Linked DNA regions of Homo sapiens. The protein of the gene in region 5 purifies or fractionates together with the protein of the main gene of each other region. This does not show direct contact. Each region holds a gene or a part of one and is shown on either strand. Other genes may lie near its edges.

Region 1 (3,500 bases), on a different chromosome or scaffold from region 5:
TTCCCAGGCTGGAGTGCTGTGGGATGATCACAGCTCACTGCAGCCTCAATCTCCTGAGCTCAAGCCATTCTCCCACCTCCTAAAGTGCTGGGATTGCAGGTGTGAGCCACCGTGTCTGGCTTTAAAATAATCTTTCTGTTCTATAATGCAGTGTTCTAAATCAGGAGAGGCTATACATTGATTTCAGTGGTGCTGCTGTGACTCAGCCACGTCGGGACCCCTCTGGAAACTGATTTTGGACTAGCATTGTCTTTTTTACCCCCACCACTAGTTTTCACCCTGCTAGGATGAATCAACATTTTAGAAACAGTCAGTCACATTTGGTGATTTGGTTGGTATACCAACCCAAACATCATTGTTTTATGCTTAAAAGGCATGAAAATATGCTTCTGTATTTATGTATGTTCTTATCTATTATTCCCATAAGATTGCACACGCTGGGGGGACCAAGTCTTGACCAGATTTACCCAGTGTTTCATTCTTACTCTATCTGTAAGCCCAACTTCATATGTGGATTGTGTTGACCAAATTAAAAAGTATACTTTAGATATTTACAGGAGAGATATAGCCCAGAATGAATAAACCATCTTTTTTTTTTAGTAAGTAGCCTGAAATGTAGATGATGATGCATTCTTAAGAAATCCAGGTGCCAGGCTGGGCGTGGTGGCTCACGCCTGTAATCATAGCACTTTGAGAGGCTGAGGCAGGCAAAACACTTGAGGCCAGGAGTTTGAGACCAGCCTGGGCAATGTAGTGAGACCTCATCTCTAAAAATAAATAAGTTAAAAAGAAAGAGAGAGAGAGAGAGAGAGAAAGAAAAAGAGAAAAAGAAAGAAATCCAGGTGTCAGTTCAGAATTGTTCACAAAAAAGAGGAACCCCCAAATCCCCAAGAACTTAGGCTAAAAATCGTTTATGTGACTGATACAGTTTGGATGTTTGACCCCTCCAAATCTCAGTTTGGATGTTTGACCCCTCCAAATCTCATGTTGAAATGTGACCCCCAGTGTTGGAGGTGAGGCCTAGTGGGAGGTGTTTGGGTCATGGGGGCAGATCCCTCATAAATGGCTTGGTGCCATCCCCTTGGTGATGAGTGAGTTCTCACTGTTAGTTCATGGGAGAGCTGGTTATTTAAAAGAGCCTGGTACCCACGCCTCTCTCTCTTACTCCCTCTCTTACCATGTGACATACCTGTTCCCCTTTCACCTTCCACCATGATCATAAGCCACCTGAGGCCCTCACCAGAAGCAGATGCCAGCACTGTGCTGGCTCATACCTGTAGTCTCAGCTACTCAGGAGTCTGAGGCTGGAGAATCACTTGAGTCTGGGAAGCCAAGGTTGCAGTGAGCCACGATTGCACCACTGCACTCCAGCCTGGGCGACAGAATGAGACCCTGTCTCAAAAAAAAAAGAAATCTAGAAATAAAATGACTACAATTTAAAAGTTACTGCACGATTGGCCAGGCTCATTGACTCACTCCTGTAATCCCAGCACTTCGGGAGTCTGAGACGGGTAGATCACTCGAGGCCAGGGGTTTGAGACCAGCTTGACCAACACAGTGAAACCGCATCTCTACTAAAAAAAAAAACAAAAATTAAAAATAAAAGTTAATACATGATAATCATGGGAACACTGAATATTGATTTAAGCAAAAATCTTAACTATTAGAAGGATGGAGAGAATAAAGAGAGGGATTCAAGACCAGCCTGGGCAACATGGCAAAACCCTGTCTCTACAAAAAATACAAAAATTAGCTGGGTGTGGTGGCTCACGTCTGTGGTCCCAGCTACCTGGGAGGCTGAGGTGAGAGGATTAATTGACCTCCACCCAGAGGTGGAGGTTGCAGTGAGCTGAGATTGTGCCACTGCACTCCAGCCAGGGCAATAGAGTGAGACCCTGTCTCAAAACAATAACCACAAAAAAAGAGGGAATGTGGTATAAGAGAGCTGAATTCTCATTCCCCATAAGAGAATGTAAATAATGTCTAAAAATGATTAATAAGATATCAGTATATTATTATATGGAGATGTATAAATTCCAAAACAAACAACTAGAAGAATTTAATTGCCTCTCTGAAGGAAGATTGGATAAAATAGAGAGGAGTGGGGCAAAAACTGCTATATTTTGTCATTTATACTATGTGATTTTTTAAACTATGTGCATGCTTTGCTTTGATCGATTAAAAATTTACTATTAGAATATTTAATGCTCGGTGGCTTACGCCTGTAATCCTAGCACTCTGGGAGGCCAAGGTGGGCGGATCACCTGAGGTTGGGAGTTTGAGGCTAGCCTGACCAACATGGAGAAACCGTGTCTCTACTAAAAACTCAAAATCAGCCGGGCGTAGTGGCGCATGCCTGTAATCCCAGCTACTCAGGAGGCTGAGGCAGGAGAATCACTTGAACCCGGGAGGCGGAGGTTGCAGTGAGCTGAGATTACGCCATTGCACTCCAGCCTGGGCAACAAGAGTGAAACTCTGTCTCAAAAAAAAAAAAAAAAAGAATATTTAATGCATAGCTATGAATTTGTTAATTGTTGAAGCTTAGTGATATGTTCAGATTCAAGCACAGATTTCTGAACATATTAGATACAGCTGAAGATGCAATTAATGCACTAAAAGATAGGGACCACCAGTATACAAAAAGACACTGTTAGCACTCTGGAGATTCCAAGGGTCTTGGATGCTCTTGTATCAGGAACCAGGGACTAAGACACTATTATAACAAAAGACATTCCTATCATTCAGGAAATTACAAGAATTTTACCAGGAGCTCTGTGTCAGGAGCCTAGGATGAGGACCAGATATATACTTTGCATCATAATATCACAGCCCATCATTTTAAAAAAACCCTAATAAATGATCATCTGTAAGACATTAATTGTAGGATATAATTAATATCCTATATAATATATAGCTTCCTGGAGGTATTTACCTTTTTATAGAGTTTTCCTGGAAAGGACAGTGGCCAACCCAGAGGTAGTGTGATGATGTCAGGTTAGATGATAGTATATAATAATGAAGTTTGTTAATAATGTATTTTTTTTGTAGTTAATGGCCTCTGTTCAAACTATACTCATAGGACCCATTCACACTCCTAAAAATTTTCACCAACCCCAGAGTCTTGCTTATGTGGTTATAACAATCAATATTATTGTGTTAGAAATTAAAACTGAGAAATCATTGAGATATTTGGTTTTGTTTTTTGGTTTTTTTTTTGAGACAGGGTCTCACTGTGTACCCAGGCTGGAGTGCAGTGGCACAATCTCAGCTTACTGTAGCCCCAACAGCCCAGGCTCAAGCAATTCTCCCACTTCAGCTTCCCAAGTAGCTGGGATTACAGGCGTGCACCACCACGCTGGCTAATTTTTTTTTTTTTAATTTTTTTGTAGAGACTGGGTTTCTACATGTTTCACCATGTTGCTCAGGCTGGTCTCGAACTCCTGGGCTCAAGCAATCCGCCCACCTCGGCCTCCCAAAGTGGGGTTACAGGTGTGAGCCTT
Region 2 (2,778 bases), on a different chromosome or scaffold from region 5:
ACTTGTGTTGCTCAAGGGTCAACTGTATATGTAGGAAGGAGCAGTACCATTGTGGAAATGATGGGAAGATAAAAGAAAATACAATTGTCACAGAGAGGACAAAGAACATGAGAAAGGAGAACAAACTCAGATTTGACCAAAAGACAATGGCTTGTATTACACTGGTAGAAGCAGCAGCCTCAGAAATTACAGGGTATTTAGGGAAAGTGGCTATTAAAGAAGCAGGTATAAGGGACTCCAAGTCTGGGAATGAAAGAGGGCAAGATTGTAGTAATAAGTGAAGGATCAGTGAAGATTTTAAAAAAAAGGAACTGAGCCATAAATTTTCTTCTTTTTTCAATTTAAAAAAAAGCTTTAAAAAAAGTTACTTATACATAAATACAAAACATATAATACACACACATATTGTTACACACTTTGTTGTTACCATTCTTAAGTACAAATTTTAGTTATTCTTAGTATCTATAGATATATGTCCTAAAGCATGATTCAGTAGCAGCTTTTCCTATCCTTTAAACGTTTTCATACTCTAAGGAGCAAGATTCTCAAAGGTATCTTTATCAATCTCCTTTGGAAAAAAAAAACCCACACACACACACACACACACACACACACACACACACACACAAAAACACATATACACATAAATAACCTCTTTAAAGGCATCACCTTAAATAGATAAAACTCCTTAGTGACTGCTGGAACTTTCCAAGCCATACATTATTTGTTTAGTAAGTCACTATCATGATGAAAAGAAATTCAGTGTTATGAAGTCTATTAAACAGCCTTAAGCTTTCATTTATTCCCTTTGATGAAGCTGATTTGAGAGAAGGACCATTTATATGTTATGAAAATAACAGACACTCCTTTGGATTTCACAGATTATAATTAAGAGAACGCTATTAACTACAGAATACTGATTGCAAAGTATTTCATTTTTAAAGATACTCCTTGAGCCAGAGAAGGGTTGAAATGTTTTCTTGAAGGAAGAGTAGAACCATGATAAAGACTATAATCCCAAGAAGGAAACAAAGTACTTCAAAGTTAGAAAACATGATGTAAGAAAACATTGGAAAGTGGGATCATTCATCTGGGACATATCATTAGAGAAAGATAAAATTGAGAGGTGTTCTTTGCCTTAATTGTGCACGAGTAATAAACTAATCGTGTCTGTACATTTCCCAACAGAATTTGGGCCACCAAATATTTTCACGTACATTATCCCATTGATTCTCACAACAACACTGTCAAATAGTAAAGGGATTCTTCTTTTCTTCTCCATGAAGAAACTAGACTGAGAAAGGTTACGTAACTAGCTCAAGATCATAAAGCAAAGCTGAGTTTGAGACCCAGGTGGGTTCCCAAAACTAGGACTGGAGCTCTTTCAACCAAATAATGCTCAATAGGAAAAGGAGTCAAGGACAAGCTCCAACTGGTAAAACAATCTGGATGAGTTAAGAGTTCAAAAGTTGAGAAACAATGTTGTTAAAGGAAACTAAACAGGTTTCTTGGATAAAATGCTAAGTTATAAGAAGCTCTGGCTAAAGAGCAAGAAGATGGATCAGCTGACTTCTCAGACCACTACTATTGTTACTTTTCTAGAATATTTTTATTTACTCTCCTCTTAAAGTCTCCTTTATTTCCTCCTCCTGATATGATTTTTTTTTTAATGACAACTCCAAAAGAAAGGATGAATAAAAAAAAAATTTGGCAACTCTTGGAACCTAAATATAAACCCTGTTGGCATGTTTACACTTCTTTTTGGATATCAGCTGTATAATCCTTTAGCCAGATTCAGTCTCATTCCTAACACAGTTAAGTGTGCTTTGTAAGGGTTTTCTTTGTTAACTTGCCTCACACATATAAAAAAGAAAAACAAATACACAGTCACATTTCCCAACACCTTTCCCCCACCAAAAACACAGTATAGGGTAGCCAGGTACTTTGAAAAAGTATCATTTTAAAACATAACTATTATTGTAAAAATAAAAAATAAACATGACAAATCAGTCACAAGGCAGGGAGGCAGGAAGTCATACTACAACAAAAAGTCTATGGATGAAGTATCTGCTTAATACTCACACACAGAAAACACTCTCAGAAAATGTTTCTTTAATTTAGTTTAACTAAAATTTCATCAAGGTAGAATGCAGTTTTGTAAAAAGTTCCAAGGATCCTATTACACAGTTGCTAATTAACCTTCAGTTCCTTATTTATACATTTTTTACTTACAGATATAAAAGGAAAAAAAATCCTAGAAATTATTTTAAACAGAACATTATACAATTAATTAAAAGTAGGAATTAGAGTGGAACAATGTGGCTTTAGATACTGATAATTAATAGACAGGATGAATCACAAAATATATTAAGTATTATCATTTTCCAGTCTCTGCATCTCATCTTGTCCCATCTGTCCAAGGTGAGACAAAAGTTTGCTATAGGCTTCCCTGTTTAAGAAAAAAGAAAAGAAAGCAAATATATTAACATTTTCATTATTTTTCATTTCAGTATTTACAAATTAAGTCTGCCCATCATCCATCCATCCATCTATTCAGCCATCCATCCAGCAGGCTTAGCACAACACTTCTTAAAAAGTAATGCTTTATATCTATTGTGAGTAAACCTAGATGTTAAGATGTATTAAAGTATGATTTTTATATATAAAATGTGTGCTAAAAATGACATGTAAAAGTTCATTAACCTTCCGAAATATTATAATGCTCACGGGTAATAAAATGCATTCATGGAATATTATTTAAGGACAATGATGGTATGA
Region 3 (3,500 bases), on a different chromosome or scaffold from region 5:
AGTAGCTGGGACAAGAAAAGCATGCCACTGTGCCTGGCTAATTTTTGTATTTTTTTTGTAGAGACAGGATCTCCCTATGTTGCCCAGGTTGGTCTTGAACTCCTGGGCTCAAGTGCTCCTCCTGCCTTGGCCTCTCATAGGCATAAGCCACCGTGCCCAGCCCAATTTCACTTTAGACTCCACTGGTGCCAGCATGGGAGGTCTGCAGGACATAGAAGATTCTATTAGGATTAAATATTTAGAACAGATGTGTGATGGAGTGCTTGTTACTTTTGTATAATTTCTATTATGTTCGAATTCCACTTTTGTCTATAAGTGATCACATTCTCAAATAGCTTCAGTGGAATATTTACTTTTGAATAAGTAAGTTCATATAAACCATCCAGAAGGAATAAGGCTATACCAGTTCAATCAGTCCCAACATCAAAGACTTTTACCCTTTCACTAGAATACTTTTTGGAGAAATGTTTGTAGAATAAATAAGCATATACAATAAGCATATATATGAGTGAATATATGAAACAAAAATTATACCCAGGCCCCCAAATGTTAAGATTTTCCTACAAGAAACCCAAATGATAAGACTAATAATCTCTGAATCTATATTTTTAACAGTTTGCTATTTCCTATCATAAAGACACAAAAACCAAGGGAAGTAGTACAATGGATATCTATGAACCCAATTCCCAGTTTAAAATAGTTAACATTCTATCATGCTTGTTTGACTTCCCACACCCATACATTGAAAAAACTACCAAATCATCACATCCATGAAATTGACAGCAGTTCTTTAATATCATTCATTACTCAGTTCAATTCTCCACATCTCTTCATTATTCTTAAGATGTACTACAATGACTGGGTCATTTAATTAAGAATACTTAGTTCTTACCTGTTTACATGTTTTCCTTTCTATGGAAAAGTTGGAATGTGTGATTTACTATTTTACAACTCAAAAGATTATTTTAAAAATGTTATAGCCACTCTAAGTTTTCCTGTCAGCTCTGACTCCTGTTTCCCATTCAGAAGCAACCACACATCATTTTTCTAGTCATCCTTCTAGAAATACACACCTTTTGATTAAACTCTCAGAAAGTTTAAACAGCCTAAATATCTGACTTCTAGCTCTATCTGACATTTCAGATTGGGAAAAAGTACTAACTTTTATGGTGTGATTTCTTTTGCCCCTTCATAGCCCTTTAATGATATATTGCTCTGTACTTATTCTAAGAAAATATCAATTACTATAAGCTATGTTAAAGAGCTGGTTTATGGAACTAGCAAATAAATAGTTAATAAAAAAATATTCAACTCAAATATACTGAAATGTTCTACATAAAGTTTTGAGTTAAAATCCTAAACAATGAAAAAAAACCTGTATACCTGAATAATCTTTTGCTCTTTCTAGTGACCATTTCCTACAAATAACACACAGTTGCATATATTTTACAGTTTCAATCTTATATTTATTCTCTTGTGGAATGCTAGGTTTAATGTTACAGTATGGTTGTCAAAGCTAATGAAATGTGACAAATGTCTAAATGCTGCAGAACAGTATAATTTTAATTAAACAAAACACCTGTTATTGTACAGCTGAGGTCTGATGGTTGTTAAACTGATGCCTATGTGTATGGCCAGCCACAAACCTTGGGGATGTTTATTACCTGTACATATATATACAAATATATCCCATACATATGTATGCACACAGGCATGTATTAATTTATGCGTGAAACTTATAAAATTATATATACAAACACATACATGCACATCTATCTACATATACCTACCCTCACCATTGAGTAATCAGCCTCATGCCCAATTATTATTGCTGCCCAGTATAACTACATGATTTTAGTGCCAATACCAGGCACCTTTTTGGGTGCAGGATAGGTACATCTATGCATATAGATATGCATATTCATGTATGTTTGTGTATATAAAGAAATTCTCTCTCCCTTTTATGCTTCAGCCATGCATTACTACAATAAACAGTCTTTCCACTGTAGGTGTTGGAATTCTAAACAGTGTAAAATCTATTTCTGGAAAACTGTGTATGTTCATAGTTACAAAAAATATATTATATATATGATTGAAACCTATTGAGTACATATGTTATTTGAATCTGGCTATATCGTAGCCATTAGATAAATTAAAAAAAACCACCCTCTAAATAGGATGTTATGGTAGCCTTAAATATACCATTACCTGTATTTAGAATAGTTGATATTATATCTTAAAAGTTGAAAAAATGATGTTAAAGATTTGAAAAACACTATGCATCTGCATTAAATATATAAATGTTTCCACCAAGGGCCCGATTAAATTCATTGTCTGACATTTTCATGTTCTAAGACTGACCAATATCATAGTCATTATTCTTATATTCTTAAAATTATGGCTCATTAAGGCTTTTATAGAAAAAAAGCCCTATTTTAAATCAATTATAAAAACAAGTTCTATTTAAAAGAAAAAACATATACAAACACTAAAGTACTCATGGATATCATCCTGTACAAAGTGACTAAAGATAGGAGGCCTGTTCCCATTAAGAACACCTCCTGGTAGCACAAATAAACCTGGTTTGGTTCCTCTGCTCTGCAGCTTTTCAGCATGTAAAATTTAAACCATTTCACATTAACATTTAAATTTAATACAGTGCAAATATTTGAGAATAACTTGTTTCCCCCAGTGAAACAAGAGCCAGCATTATGCTGAATATTCTCCAGATCTATTTACACATTGAGTTAAAAGTTCACCATAAACTTAGAAATTTGCTGAATATCAGCAGAAATGTAACTGAACTAGCAGCAATTGCATTTACAATATTTGATAGTTACTTGAGAGAATGCATAAAATTTTCCAGGCTGTACTCTGAATCATACTGCTCTTGATCCCAAAGATCACTCAGGTTTTCAAGAATTGATTTCATACTTGCTTTCCCAGAAGTAGAGGTGTCAGCTTTTTCTGCTTTGCCATCCTTAAGAAAAATTGGCAAAAAAAAAAAAAATAAAATGAGAGGTTAACTTCACAAATTGTATTTTCCTTTAAAATCACACTTGTTTCTAATACAATTATTCAACAGAATTGAGTACTTCAAGTGATGGGGAAATTCATGATCTCCAAATACATTTATTTGTCAGTTTTTTATTTGGAAAGAACTTCAAAATTATGGAAGAATTATAAGAACATAACAAAGAACTTATTTGCTTTATCATTCTCTCTCCCCATTTATATATGTGTATGTATATATGGATGTCAGAAATATAGTTAGATATCAGTTTTTTCTCTGAACAATTTGAAAGAAAGTTGTAGACATCATGTCCTTTTATCCTTTGAGAGGAATCAGCATGTATTCCTAAGAACAAGAATATTCTCTTACATAACCATATAAAGATCAGATTAAGGAAATCTAACACTGATATTAAAATGTTCTAATATACAGTCTGTTTTCAAATTCTGCCAATTGTCTAAATAGTGCCTTTTATGGCAATAGGCCA
Region 4 (3,500 bases), on a different chromosome or scaffold from region 5:
TTGCATTTCTGCATTTTACAAAATGTAATCATCTCTTCCATCAGCGTGGGAAACCCTGCTCTCCCTCCCACTAGGTTGGCTGTCCAGGTGATGCTCACCCACCAGACATTCCTGACCCCGCTCATCCCCCACAGCCAATCGGTCACCAAGTGCCTCCATTCTGAGCTGAAATGGGCTTTGCAGACTGAGTAGGAGCGGGCCCAAGAGGAGGGCACTGTGGGTGGGGTGGCTGAGAGTGCCAGGCCCCTGCCCCCACCTCTCCTCACCATCCTGACAGCAGCTTGGCGTGGATGCTTTCTGGCCGCAGAACCCCTCCCGGGCATTGCAGGCGTGCTGTCCCTCCACTTTCCCTCCTCCCCTCCCCGCTGCTGGCCAGCCTCAATGGCTCTCCCCCCGGGTGGCAATACCAGTGTCTCCCACTGGCCCAGTCCTTGCTCAGGGGTCAGATGATCTTTCTAGAACACAAGTCCCTCTCCTGCCTAAAACCATCCCCTGCCCCTTTGCTGCTTATGGACAGAATCTGGTGCCTCCTTGGCCTCCTTGCCACCCACCCGGTGCGGCTCCAGACCTCCACGTGCCCTAGATCTGGAACAGCCCCTCCCCACCTCTGACGTCTGAGCTGCTGTGCTGCTTCCCCAGCGTCTCACACCGAGGCTCCCCACCCAGGACTCCTGCACTTTTCCATAGCTCTGTGGAGCGGCCGGCTCATTACCACTTTTAACAGGTTTTTTTTTTTTTTGAAGTGGAGTCTCGCCCTGTTGCCCAGGCTGTAGTGCAGTGGCACGGTCTCGGCTCACCGTAACCTCCGCCTCCCAGTTTCAAACAGTTCTCCTGCCTCAGCCTCCCGAGTAGTTGGGATTACAGACGCCTGCCACCGCACGCAGCTAATTTTTGTATTTTTAGTAGAGATGGGGTTTCACCGTGTTGGCCAGGCTCTCAAACTCTTAACCTTGTGATCCGCCCGCCTTGGCCTCCCGAAGTGCTGGGATTACAGGCGTGAGCCACCATGACCCGCTCTTAACGGTTCTTTAGTTCAAGACAAGGGCTTCTGTGTGTCTTTTCGTCGTGGCATATTCCCAGGATTGGACTTAGCCAGCAATTTACCCATGGCTGGTTTTGAGGATCCAAGGGACCAAAAGAAGCCATAGTATGTGTGGGCAGGTGTAGGCGTGAGCGGAAAGAGGGCACAGGGTACCGGGAGGGTGGAGAGGCTGTGCACGGAGGGGCACGCCGGGCGTGTGGTGGACCTGGGGGAAATGTCTGCAACATGCTGCTTTGTAAAGGTCTCTGGGACAGCAAAGTAAAAATGGCCATGAGGTGGTTAGAAATTGAAGAGTCCACCTGGCCAGCCCTCTAGGGCATTCCCTGGGGAATGTGGACAGTGGCCTGTGTGCCTGCCCCTTCTTTCCCGCTTGGCCCCCATGCTATTTGGAACCAGATGTCAGACACCTATTAACCCCCTGAAATGAGCCATCTATTATCTAGAGAGCCGTTTCACCCTTGTGGCCTGAATTTCCTAATCTCCAAAATAAGCATAATAAGGTCTGCGTGACGAGGTTAAAACCTGTACGTGCCCTGCTGTGAAGCAATCTGAGAAACCATTTCACACGGAGGTGTGGCCCACTGCCGGACACGCCACATCTGTGTGCATGTGCCGGTGCACGCTTGCTGCTTAAAACAAATCAATCTCCATTTGGTAGAATTTAGAGTAGCTTCGAGGACAGTGTGTTGAGTTGGGTGATGATGGGGGCTTCCCCTAAACCCACCTGAAAGTCTGAGGCACACTGTGAGCGGGAACGAAGCCATCACCTGCCCCGGAAGGCCCCTTCCGCTTGGAGCAGCACCGTCTGCCCGGAGTTCCCAGCAGTCTCCCAAAGGGCACGTCCAGGGTGGGCGAAAGGCCATGGTGCTGGGGCTGGTGTGTGCAGTGGGTGGAGGCTGGGTGGACGCGGGGCTAGGGATGGCCTGGGACTCCAGCAGGAAGGGCCGGTACCACGAGCCCAAGAAGCTGGTGCTTATCTTGTGGGTGAGTTGGGGGGGGCCCTGAAGGCTCATTTACAGCAGTCCCTTTGGGGCAGAATGGAGACAAATTTCTGGAAGATGCTGGAAACAGGGAGTGGTGATGAGGTTGAGAAGGGCTGGACCTGCGGGGAGCGTGGGCTGCCTGAGTGCCCCGTGGGGGTGGAGACCAGGAGGAGGGGGCCTGAGCAGATGCTAAGCTCCCAGCACACGGCCGCCGTGGGGCAGCCAGCTATGCCAGGCAGTTTCCCCGGCTTCCGTGGGGTCAAGGCTCTGCTTGCTGGCCGGCAGGACGAGCGGCGTTATCAGACAACCCAGCTGGCGCAGAGGTGGCCCCCCAGTGCTGCTAAATCGGGGCCACCAGCTCCTGCCGCAGGAAGAGGGAAATGCAGGCAGGATGTCCTCTCCTGTGGCCGACAAGTCCTTTCCCATGAACCCCTGCTGACCTCGCCGGCCACGTGGCGGGCCTCCCCTACTCACCACCTGGATCTACCCAGGCCTGGCCGTGGGCTAGGGTGGTGCGGGCCTCAGACAGGGCCGGGGGTGTGCCTGCTGTTACCCCGTCCAGCCCGGCCAGGGCTGGCGCCCTGCTCCTCCTCCGGGAATGAATGCCCGCATCTTCCTGCTCCCAGACCTGTCTCCTCAGTGTGACCGGAAAACCCAGATTCCAGAGGAAGCCAGTGTCTGAAAAGGATCGAAACTCAGGAATCCCTGGCTCCAGCTGGACACACTGACTGAATCTTGCTCAGAGTCTAGGGGGTGTGAGAGGCTCTCCAGACCCCTCTCCCTGCCCACCCCCAACTCCGAGGGGCATCTCAGAGGGACGTGGGGCACAGGCTAGGCCTTGGTGGAGAGAAAACTGCCCTGTGGAGGAAAATACGGCAGCAGGAGGGGAGTAAGCCAGACACAGAGAAGCACCTCCCCTTGCAGCTGATTCGCTTAATTTCCCTGGTTCCCCCATTCCCCTCTGTCCCATCATACTCAAGTGCTCCCAACTTTCCTCCCTCCTTATCTGGCCGGGTGCATCAGCTGAGGTCTCCGAGGAAATCCCATTGCCTACCTCCACCCAAGGTCCTGCTCCTCTCCCAGGGTCTCCCTTTGATAAATTATCCTTGAAGCCAGAGACCTGGGACTTCCTCTGTCCCCACCATCCCCAGCTGCTACCTGCCTCCACCCCAGTTTATCCCCTGGGTTATCCACTTGCAGTTCCTGTCTCCCCTGGACACCAGCCTCCTTGCTGCTGGCACTGCCGCATCTCCAGCCTCGTTTCCCCTACCTCCCATCCACTCCTCCCAGACTCCAGCCTCACCGGACCACCCACTTGGCCACATTCACCATCTGGACTTGCCTGTCTCTGGGGCTTCATGGGGTTCTTTGCTCTGCTTGGAATTCCCTGTCCTGGAGTTCTGCAGACCCCACCAGGAAGCCCTTAGCTGGAAGTGACACTGCCTTCCTGTGCAGCTTACAGCCACCAGCTGGGC
Region 5 (2,971 bases):
GATTAAAGAAACACGTAGGAATTAAAACAAGATGTGGGAATTAATTAGATACATGCGATAAAGAGACTTGTAAAGGGTGATTCCAAAATGTAAGGCTTTTGGGAAATAGGTACATAGTAGTGTCATGATTGAGACAGAGAATACGGGAAGACAACGTGGAGGGGAGATGGGATGAGGTGTGCATTGAAATGGCAGGTTCTGTTTGAGATTTGATTTGCTGGTGAGACACCCATGTGGACATGGTCTATTGGCCGGTAGAGATACAGAATTGAAGTTAAGAAGAAAGGTCTTGTCTGAAAAATGAAGATCCACGTATCCTCATATTATGTATTGTAATTGCAGTCGTAAGAGTGGATCCATTGACTCAGGTTCAGGTACAGAATGGAAAGAGAGCTGGACTAACTGTGGAACAGCAGCCCTTATTTTTCTTTTTTAGTTGCATTAGTCTTACTGCCTTGTCTTAGACAAGCACTCTGATATAAAATTCCACACAATTTCTCTCATTTTCCCAACTTTTTAATTGCAACATAAAGCCTCTACATAAAAGGTATTTTATTAATGAATTGACATAATGAATTGGATAAGATATATGTTAATTGAATCATTAATTGGATTCTAATAATTTACTAATACAACATGTAACACAGTAGCATATACATTTCTTACAGTGTAATAATTCACCAAGAGGGAGGGTAAATCTTTAACCACAGTTTTCTATTAGCATCTTAAGCAAAGTGACTGCTACTTAAAAGACAAAAAGGTTATTTTTGAACAATTTGCCTAGTCTAACAGAAAAATGAATCATTTGATTATATATTACAGATATACATTACTTTTTGTTCGCTTCTTAAAGTCTTACACCTAATCTAACATATTGTTTTCATTCTTTTTCAGTATTCCAGAAGTGCAGTGCACTTAAAAACCAGTCCTTTATATCTATCATGGAAGGAATTTAATAGGAGCTATAATATGAATTTTAAATATATCCACAAAGTAAAGCTCTCCAGTTCATAAAATTAATGTTGTAACTATATATCATATGCATGTTGAAGTTTTTTGCTTTAAAAATATATTCACAAATTCTGTCATATTTACAAAAATATGACTAATGAAACTTTAATAGCATCTAAAGACGTATGACTATTTTAACATCTCAGTTGTTATTTTTTATGAACATAGAAGGTTTTTAAGCATCTTTGGTTGGGTACTATTGAAATAACAATTTTATTCATAATATAATTAAATAAAAAATACTGTAGCATCTATGTTCTACAATTTATAGAAACAATTTTTATGTATATATTCATATTATATAAAAATATAGCTAATTATTTTGAAAAGAAGACAAATAACTTATGTGAAACTGGTTTGAAATACAACATTTGCAAGATGAAATGAATCCAGTGTTTTTAGTACCTCTTACAGATAGGTCCATTTTAATGTAATTACATTGTTTTATTTAGTATGAATGGGTCCGTGGAGGATGAATTTCAAAGAAAATAACACTGCAGTGTTCTTTAAATACATGAGAGCTATGTACCTGTGCAAAAATAGCTTGTAAATACTGTGAAATGTTACAACATGCCACAAAAATTATTCTCTAGTCTGATTTAAATTTTAGTGTAGACAAACTTAGCTCCAATAGGAATAACAACAGAAATCATACATGTTCAAAAAGGTATAACAATAAAAGTATCAAGTTGTATTCTTGTTATCTAAATAGTATCTCCATAAAGCGGATGTAACTTGAAATTAGAAATTAAATGATGGTTTGCATTTCCTGTAATTCTGAGAATTTCAGCTTTTGATTCAGAGTTGAAGAAACTTTCACCAAACGTGCAATTGGTTTTAAGAACAATTGGCCCACTGAGTGTTGAGGAGTTCCCCTATCATCTGCCAAAATATTAATTATATAGCAAATTTCAGTTTATCTCCTCGAAGCCATTCGTATAGTTGGCAATCGTTTCCTGCAGCATTCCCTGATGGATTTTGTCTAGAGAATGAACAAAAAAATCAAAATGCGATGAAGGAGAGCCTGTGGCTCCCTGGAGAAATTTCTGTTCAGTGGTGTTTTCATAAGCCAAGCAGGGAGCAGCGAACTGCACACCTCCTCAATCCAGGTCCTAACGTGATTTGAAAGTCAACTTATTTTCCCACCGTCTCTCAGCAATGCTTTGATAATACCAATTTCTTGTTCAAGTTTTCTTCACTCCAGGAAAATAATCAAAAGTACTTCTCTCTGCTTTTACTCATAATGCAACCTACTACCCAACCAACTGTTAAGTAAACCATTTTGTTGCCTTATCTTTGAATTCCAGTATTTTCACACAGGCTCTGCCCAGCCAGTTTTCCAGGAATTAAACAGCAGATGCTTCCATTTAGATCCACTTCTTCTTTAAAATGGGAAATCAGTTTTCACTTGTGAGCCGCCATCAACCAGATTCATAGCTCTGGTCAGAATTCATCCATACATTTTCACACCACAGCTTCCTTAGACATTGGTAGCCTCTGTGAAAGAGTCATTGGGGCCACTGTTCTTTCTGACCTCCAGGTTCTTTTTAGCCTTGAATGTCACGGACACCTCAGAGTGAATGGCATCCAACCGCTGCTCACAGCGGAAGGCCGAGAGGAAAGCCTTTCTGTAGTTGCTGTTCATCCAGCCATAGAGAAGGGGATTGGCAAAAGTGGAGCACATGGCGATGATGTGGAACACTGTGAAGATGAGTTTGTACTCCTTCAGGTCCAGGACCTGGCTGTCAATGTCAACGGCAAGCTGGAAGGCATGGAGAGGCAGCCAGCTGACCGCAAACACCACCACCACACACACCAGCATTTTGGTGGTTTTTTGCCTTCGCTGATGGTAGTGGTCATTTGCAGCTCCAGGACTGACATGGTTCTTCAATTTACTCCAAATGCGAGTGTAGGAAAATGATATAATGCCCAGAGGCAAAACATACAAGATCAACAAGGA
Region 6 (2,735 bases), on a different chromosome or scaffold from region 5:
ATGTTTTGTTCACATCAATATAAACAGCAGTTGCTTATGAAACTACACCAACTCTGAAGGGCAAGAAAGAAAAGCTTATTTTTTGGTCATTAAACTAGAGTGAGCTTTTAAGCTCCATCTAGACTTTTCTTTTTTGACAGAAATCTCTAGTTCTTCAGTTTATCACTGAATCAAAAGGTGCTAAAATGTTATACAAAAAAGTTTCAGAATATACTCACTTCTCCAAAAGAGTAAGGGCTGTGTTTGGATTCACCCGAAGGTACTTAGAAGCTGGCTGCCCATAATCAGCTAGGTAAGTAGACCAATCCCAAACCATAAACAGGTCAAGGAGCTGCGAAAGATGGGGGAAATGTTAAATCAACTTTTGATTATTTACCCAGTTAATACTTAAATTATATGCTATCCTTGGTCCATTTTAATATGGCTTGCTTCTTAGATGGAACAGAATACGGAAATTCATTTTTAAAACTTCATTAACTGTACTTTACAATCAAAATAGATCTTTTTACTTTGAAATTACTAAAAATGCCAGGGGTTGTTTTCTAGTAAAATACTTCATGTTTTCAAATAATTGTAAAATAATGAAAACAATGTTAATATAATATATATTAACCCTTGTACTGATGTATAGAAATTTTATCTTTATGCATTAGTCAGTACCCAGATTTAATTAATAAAGGTTGGTGCTACTAACCTGTATGAAGAATTTTAAAGAACTTAAATTGAACCTTTTTTTCTTAGAGGTAAGTATGTTTACCTTTCAAGGACGCTGTTTGCACCTAAGACTTTTTCCAAAGTAATTTAAACCAAAAGCTCAGATAATCTCAATTAAGTGCATTAAACAACCTCTGCTAGATTCTCTCTGGTGATAGATCCTCTGTAGTATTATGAAATGAGGGCTTCAGGATTCAGCCTGTTAACTCTAGGCTACCATTTTGTATAAACAAACAACAACAAAAAAGAAACCCTCTTGTTTCCCGTGGTGTCTTAAAATTGACTATTTACTTTATAATCTCCAGTTAGAATCATTGTCAAATATGGAAGTAATCTTTTAAAAGCAATGCCATGCCTAAACCTAAGCACCAAACTCTTTATCCAACTTTAAAACCCTAATCCCCTTTAAGCCATTTAAAACCAACTTCCTATCCCCATTTGAATTGTTTCAGAAAGCTAAATGCTTTACTTACTACCTTCCTTTAGTTTTTATATTCTTTCTTTTTGTTTTAACTCACTTTATAAGTAAGGGGTCTTACTGGTTTTGCTTTCAAATGGAGGAAACATTTGCATTTACTCATGGGATACAAGAGCCGACCACTGACTCTGAGAGGGATAAAACTCTGGGGTGATTAAAACCTCATAAAGAAAGGTCACCAGAAACTAGCTTTTCTTGATGAAGGTAAAGAACTTGCTTGACTATTTCCCCATCCAATTTACAGGTATTAATAGAGATTTTCTTGCAACAGGCAGAAAATTCTATAATGAAAATATTAACTATGGAAAGCCACTCTATTTTCTTTCGGACAAGATACCATTCTGGGCCATACCAACAGTTGAAACACTAGGATAGAAACTATACTGAGACAATGTTAAAGAATATACTGTCTGAAAAAGAAAAGGGAACTTATTTAAAGTTCTGTGTAATTTTTAACTGTTGTTTGGCCACATTTTTCCCTCCTTTCACAAAGAGGAAAAGTTACTTTCATACACTCAGATGGTAAGAGTGTAAATTAGTATAACGTCTCCGGAATGTGATTCTGCAATGTGTTTAAGAACCTTATAAAAGTGGCCATTCCCTTTGATTCAGCAATCCTACTTCTTGGAATGCAACTTCGAGAAACAGAAAAAAATTTATGCACAAAGATATTAATCTCAAAAATGTTATTTGTGTTATCAAAAACTGAAAATAGCCTAAATCTCAATATTAAGAGACTGGTTAAGTAGTGAGGTCTATCTGTATGATGACTATCATGTGGTTATTAAAATTAATGTTTACAAAGAATTTTAAATAACTTGGGATAATGTTTATGATAAATGTTGCTACTTAAGTTACATAAAAACCCATCCAAAAAGACTGGAAGAAAATTTGCAAAAACGTTAAGGATGCCGGTTATAAGCTGGGCATGGTGGTGTGTTCCTGTAGTCCCAGCTACTCTGGAGACTGAGGCGGGAGGATCACTTGAGCCCAGGAGTTAAGAGTCCACCCTGGGCAACATAATGAGACTTCACCTCTAAAATAGTAATTTTTAAAAAAGAATGATTGTCATTTATGTGGTGGGATTAAGGTTAACTGTTATTTTCTTTATTTTTGTAATACTCTACAATGGATATGTGTTAATACTATAGTTATAAATAAGGTTTATATATTTATATATTAAAATAAATTTCAATAATGAACACCCCTCACAGAGTTGTCAACAGAAGCCTCATTTTCAAGGATTCTTCTTTCAGGTATATGTGTGTATTTGCACAACTGTGCATGTGCAATGCACAGTGTCAGCAGAAAGCAACCTCTTAAGGCTCTTTTTCTCTAGGCTGATTTACCCCCAAGTGGGAAAGGAGGAGCCGACTTAATGAATGAAAAACCCGCACCAACTCCAACTGTGAATACAGAATTGATTCTTTTACAGCACAAGACCAGACTGTCCTGGATAAAGAAACACTATGCTTACAATGTTCACATATGGTCAGATACTCATATGCAAATCTCTTATGTGCAAATCCGCAGAAATTACAGG
Region 7 (3,500 bases), on a different chromosome or scaffold from region 5:
ATTGCCAAGATGCCATTAGGGGAGACACAGAAGTGTGTTATTAGGTTAAACACCAACAGAAAAAAAAAACTGGCCTGAGGCAGTGGTAGCACATAAGTGACAGCAATTTGCCTTAGCCAAGAAACACTAAACTGATGTAACCATTAAAAAGTGCTACTTTAGTAAAGGGAAAAAAACTGAACTTAACAAAAAGCCATGAAAGGAAACAATGTAATGGGCATTCTGAGCCCATAAAAACCTTTCAGAAGGGAGCAGTTTGCACGAAAGAAATGGTTAATTGGTCTCCAAATGGATTTAGAAAATACCAGACACGCTTTGAGCTAGTTAATAGTCATCCAGGACTTCTCAGGTTCCACCTGTTTCTAAAACCACTTTCCTCAAAGAAATTTAGGACAAGGATTTAAGATCCTAGGACATGCTGTAATGATCAATCTCAGCAAGCCCTAAAAGGGACTGACATTTGCTACCCTCAGAAGGTGTCTCCACAGTGAGCACAGAACGTGGCTTATGGAATTGCATGGAAAATGTGTGCAGAGTGAATGTAAGTGGCAGGGAGGGGGCTACAGACTCTTCCCCACACTGAAGCTGGCTGCTTGAGCCATCTCCCCCTTATATGACCTTTGATACAACTTTAGCCAAATTCTGTGTCCATAAGGAAACACAATAAAAACATAAACTCCCGTGCATCACTTTACCTACCTGTCCCCATCCCCTAAGCATATGAGGCCAACTTACTGCAGACATCATTCCCTCTGAAGGCACATTGTGAGCCACAGAACTGTGCCTGACTCTCCCTAGGGTTTCTCTCTAGTGACTTCGAGGGCTGACCAGCCTTGTGTCTCAGAGTCCTGCCATTTAATTTCTCTCCAGTTGTGCTACAGAATTATATAATTAAATGAAAATCAACAGGGCAAGGAGAGAGAGAAGAGGAGGGCAACAGGGAAAGGAAACCAGTTGCATGTTACAGAAAGCATTTGTCTTTGTGACCCACAACACCAGAAAACAAAATGTTACCTGTGCTTGACAGCACTTCACATGCAGTGGTCCATGAGTATAAATTAATTTTATATTGATGGTAATAGTAATGATCAAAAAGAATTTGTCCTCAAACTATGTGGATGCCATGTGCATATCCACTGAGGTTCTGTTATAATTCAGTGTTAGTTAAATGAGTCATCAAAAGATAGTTTTATTCTGAGCTCTCATATTGCCATTAAAACGTCAGTCCCCTATAGTTGAAGATGATGAAGGACAGTGTAAAAGGAACACATTACAGAGCCATCCATTTAATTTCTGATTGGAAATGAGGCCAAAATGGCCTCCATAGCACAGTAGGGTGAATTTAGTTAACAATAATTTATTGTGTATTTCAAAATAGCTAGAAGAGATTTAGAATGTTCCCAACACACACAAAAAAATTAATCAATGGTTGAGGTGATGGATATCCCAAATGCCCTGACTTGATCATTACACATTGCATGCATGTATCAAACTATCACATGTACCTCATAAATATGTACAATTATTATGTATCAATAAAAAATGGCCTCAAAGGGGAATCAAATACTCATCTTCCTCTTTCTGAAGCATTTGTAGGGTTGCGTTTGGGATGTGTTTACACCAGGGCCTCCTTGGTCCTCATTATCTCGCCCTGACCTACTGCAAGGTTGTGTTGTTAGCTCAGTTCTAGACACATGGCATGCAGGGGATAAATGTTTACTAAGTGAGCAAATGAATGAATGGCAAGCAACAAAGATGGTCCTATTCTTTCCTCTCTCACCTCACAAAATACAGACAAAAGGGAAGAAGTGGAGACAATGGCAGGAGACTTTAAGCTTGACATTGCACTTTCTTTCTGTGGAACTGGGAGATGGCATAACAGCCACTGCAATTCATGGGTCACAGAGGCAGGGAGATATCAAGGGAAGGTCAGCACCCTCTCAAACCCACCCCACACTCCTTGAGAAGTCACCCGAGAGGCCAAGCTCTGATGACTATGTCCTGATGGAAAGCTCACATTCTTCTGTTTAGGAGACCAGAATCCAATAAGCCTTCATTTCTCAGCATCTGTCAATGAATTTCTCTGCCTCCCCACTTTCCACATTAGTAATCTAACCTCATATAATCTCTTGGACAACTCATGTGGTTGCCATTTTATCAAAGTGGAAAGATGGTTGTTGTTGTTGTTTTCCTTGGGGTTAATAAATATGTTTTCTATTTTTTCCTTTGGGATACATGTTTTCTATTTTCTTAACCCGAAGCACTTTTAAAAACAGATTTTGTTATTTTCCTACAACACTGGCCAATTGCAAAATATAGAGCAATTAAAAGCAAGAAGATAATAGTTATTGTTGTTTGTTTTTATTCCATTGTTTTACAGTACTGAACAGAAAGACTGATTGTGATTATCTAATCAGTAAACTCAAGTAAAATGTATGATCGAATACAGCTAAAAATACCCTTCTGGGGAGCAGGAATGTTAGAGTCACATTCATAAGTCTAATAAACAACTTAAACATTCCCTTTACCCCACGGGTCATACTGTCATACTGTGGGTCATACTGTGCTAAAGGATGTGTGAACAAGTGCAATCAATGTGAAAGTCAAATGTCAGAGAAAAGAAAAAGTGTGCCGGGTCAGTGAGCACAGGCTTGTGGTATGCAGGGGCCTTCTTCACTTTTGATGTTGTGGTTGATGCTTGTCTTGGTTTTGGTTTTAGTGTTTTTCCTGGAGGCCAAAACAAAAGAAAGATTTGGCCTCTCCCTGAATATGGAATAATGGGACTACAGAGCAGGAAAAGACCTAAAGGATAATTAAGAATACACCTTTCCTGGCCAGGTGCAGTGGCTCACACCTGTAATCCCAGCATTTTGGGAGGCTGAGGCGGGCGGATCACTTGAAGCCAGGGGTTCAAGACCAGCCTGGCCAACATGGTGAAACCGTGCCTCTACTAAAAATACAAAAATTACCTGGGTGTGGTGGTGCATGCCTGTAGTCCCAGCTACTCAGGAGGCTGAGGATCACTTGAACCCAGGAGGCGGAGGTTGCAGCGAGTCGGGATCACGCAACTGCACTCCAGCCTGGAAACAGAGCAAGAGTCTGTCCCAAAAAAAAAAAAACAATACACCTTTCTTTTTACCCATGTTGAATCTGAGGCCTAGGGAGTTGAGGTGACTTGACGAGCATTACATATCTGAGCAAAGCCAGCCCAGTGCCCTTTATACACTTAACCTAATGCATATGTTCTGAGAAGTCATCTAACCTAGCTATTGTTTTTAAGAATTACAAATAATATTTTAAAACTCTGGTATGTTCAAAATAAAGAGAAAGAACACAACTGAAATCCCAAAGAAAAAGACGAAATCAAATATATGTAGCATATACAGACACATACTTTATATATATATAGTAACTCTCTCTCTCTCTCTCTCTCTCTCTCTCTATATATATATATATATAAAATATTAACTGAGGTATTGATAGGAGTCAAATAGGATGTT

The links.
Region 1: the proteins of NPY2R (region 5) and SLC25A17 purify together in Homo sapiens (affinity purification with mass spectrometry; 2 studies listed by BioGRID and IntAct, with this or other methods). This does not show direct contact.
Region 2: the proteins of NPY2R (region 5) and MMS22L purify together in Homo sapiens (affinity purification with mass spectrometry; 2 studies listed by BioGRID and IntAct, with this or other methods). This does not show direct contact.
Region 3: the proteins of NPY2R (region 5) and BTAF1 purify together in Homo sapiens (affinity purification with mass spectrometry; 2 studies listed by BioGRID and IntAct, with this or other methods). This does not show direct contact.
Region 4: the proteins of NPY2R (region 5) and FLT4 purify together in Homo sapiens (affinity purification with mass spectrometry; 2 studies listed by BioGRID and IntAct, with this or other methods). This does not show direct contact.
Region 6: the proteins of NPY2R (region 5) and EXOC6 purify together in Homo sapiens (affinity purification with mass spectrometry; 2 studies listed by BioGRID and IntAct, with this or other methods). This does not show direct contact.
Region 7: the proteins of NPY2R (region 5) and SLC35F1 purify together in Homo sapiens (affinity purification with mass spectrometry; 2 studies listed by BioGRID and IntAct, with this or other methods). This does not show direct contact.

Annotation. Positions count from the first base shown.
Region 1 is NC_000022.11:40,809,347-40,812,846, reverse strand, and holds part of SLC25A17 (peroxisomal membrane protein PMP34), read left to right. Parts: intron 1-3,500.
Region 2 is NC_000006.12:97,144,439-97,147,216, forward strand, and holds part of MMS22L (protein MMS22-like), read right to left. Parts: intron 2,450-2,778; coding exon 2,368-2,449; 3' UTR 1-2,367. UniProt on the Homo sapiens protein: Component of the MMS22L-TONSL complex, a complex that promotes homologous recombination-mediated repair of double-strand breaks (DSBs) at stalled or collapsed replication forks.
Region 3 is NC_000010.11:92,028,270-92,031,769, reverse strand, and holds the end of BTAF1 (TATA-binding protein-associated factor 172), read right to left. Parts: intron 2,981-3,500; coding exon 2,837-2,980; 3' UTR 333-2,836; downstream 1-332. UniProt on the Homo sapiens protein: Regulates transcription in association with TATA binding protein (TBP). Removes TBP from the TATA box in an ATP-dependent manner.
Region 4 is NC_000005.10:180,643,101-180,646,600, forward strand, and holds part of FLT4 (vascular endothelial growth factor receptor 3 isoform 1 precursor), read right to left. Parts: intron 2,680-3,500; exon of another isoform or gene 2,056-2,679; coding exon of another isoform or gene 1,767-2,055; intron 1-1,766. UniProt on the Homo sapiens protein: Tyrosine-protein kinase that acts as a cell-surface receptor for VEGFC and VEGFD, and plays an essential role in adult lymphangiogenesis and in the development of the vascular network and the cardiovascular system during embryonic development.
Region 5 is NC_000004.12:155,214,606-155,217,576, reverse strand, and holds the end of NPY2R (neuropeptide Y receptor type 2), read right to left. Parts: coding exon 2,492-2,971; 3' UTR 501-2,491; downstream 1-500. UniProt on the Homo sapiens protein: Receptor for neuropeptide Y and peptide YY. The rank order of affinity of this receptor for pancreatic polypeptides is PYY > NPY > PYY (3-36) > NPY (2-36) > [Ile-31, Gln-34] PP > [Leu-31, Pro-34] NPY > PP, [Pro-34] PYY and NPY free acid.
Region 6 is NC_000010.11:93,054,520-93,057,254, reverse strand, and holds part of EXOC6 (exocyst complex component 6), read right to left. Parts: intron 332-2,735; coding exon 219-331; intron 1-218. UniProt on the Homo sapiens protein: Component of the exocyst complex involved in the docking of exocytic vesicles with fusion sites on the plasma membrane.
Region 7 is NC_000006.12:118,277,764-118,281,263, forward strand, and holds part of SLC35F1 (solute carrier family 35 member F1), read left to right. Parts: intron 1-3,500. UniProt on the Homo sapiens protein: Putative solute transporter.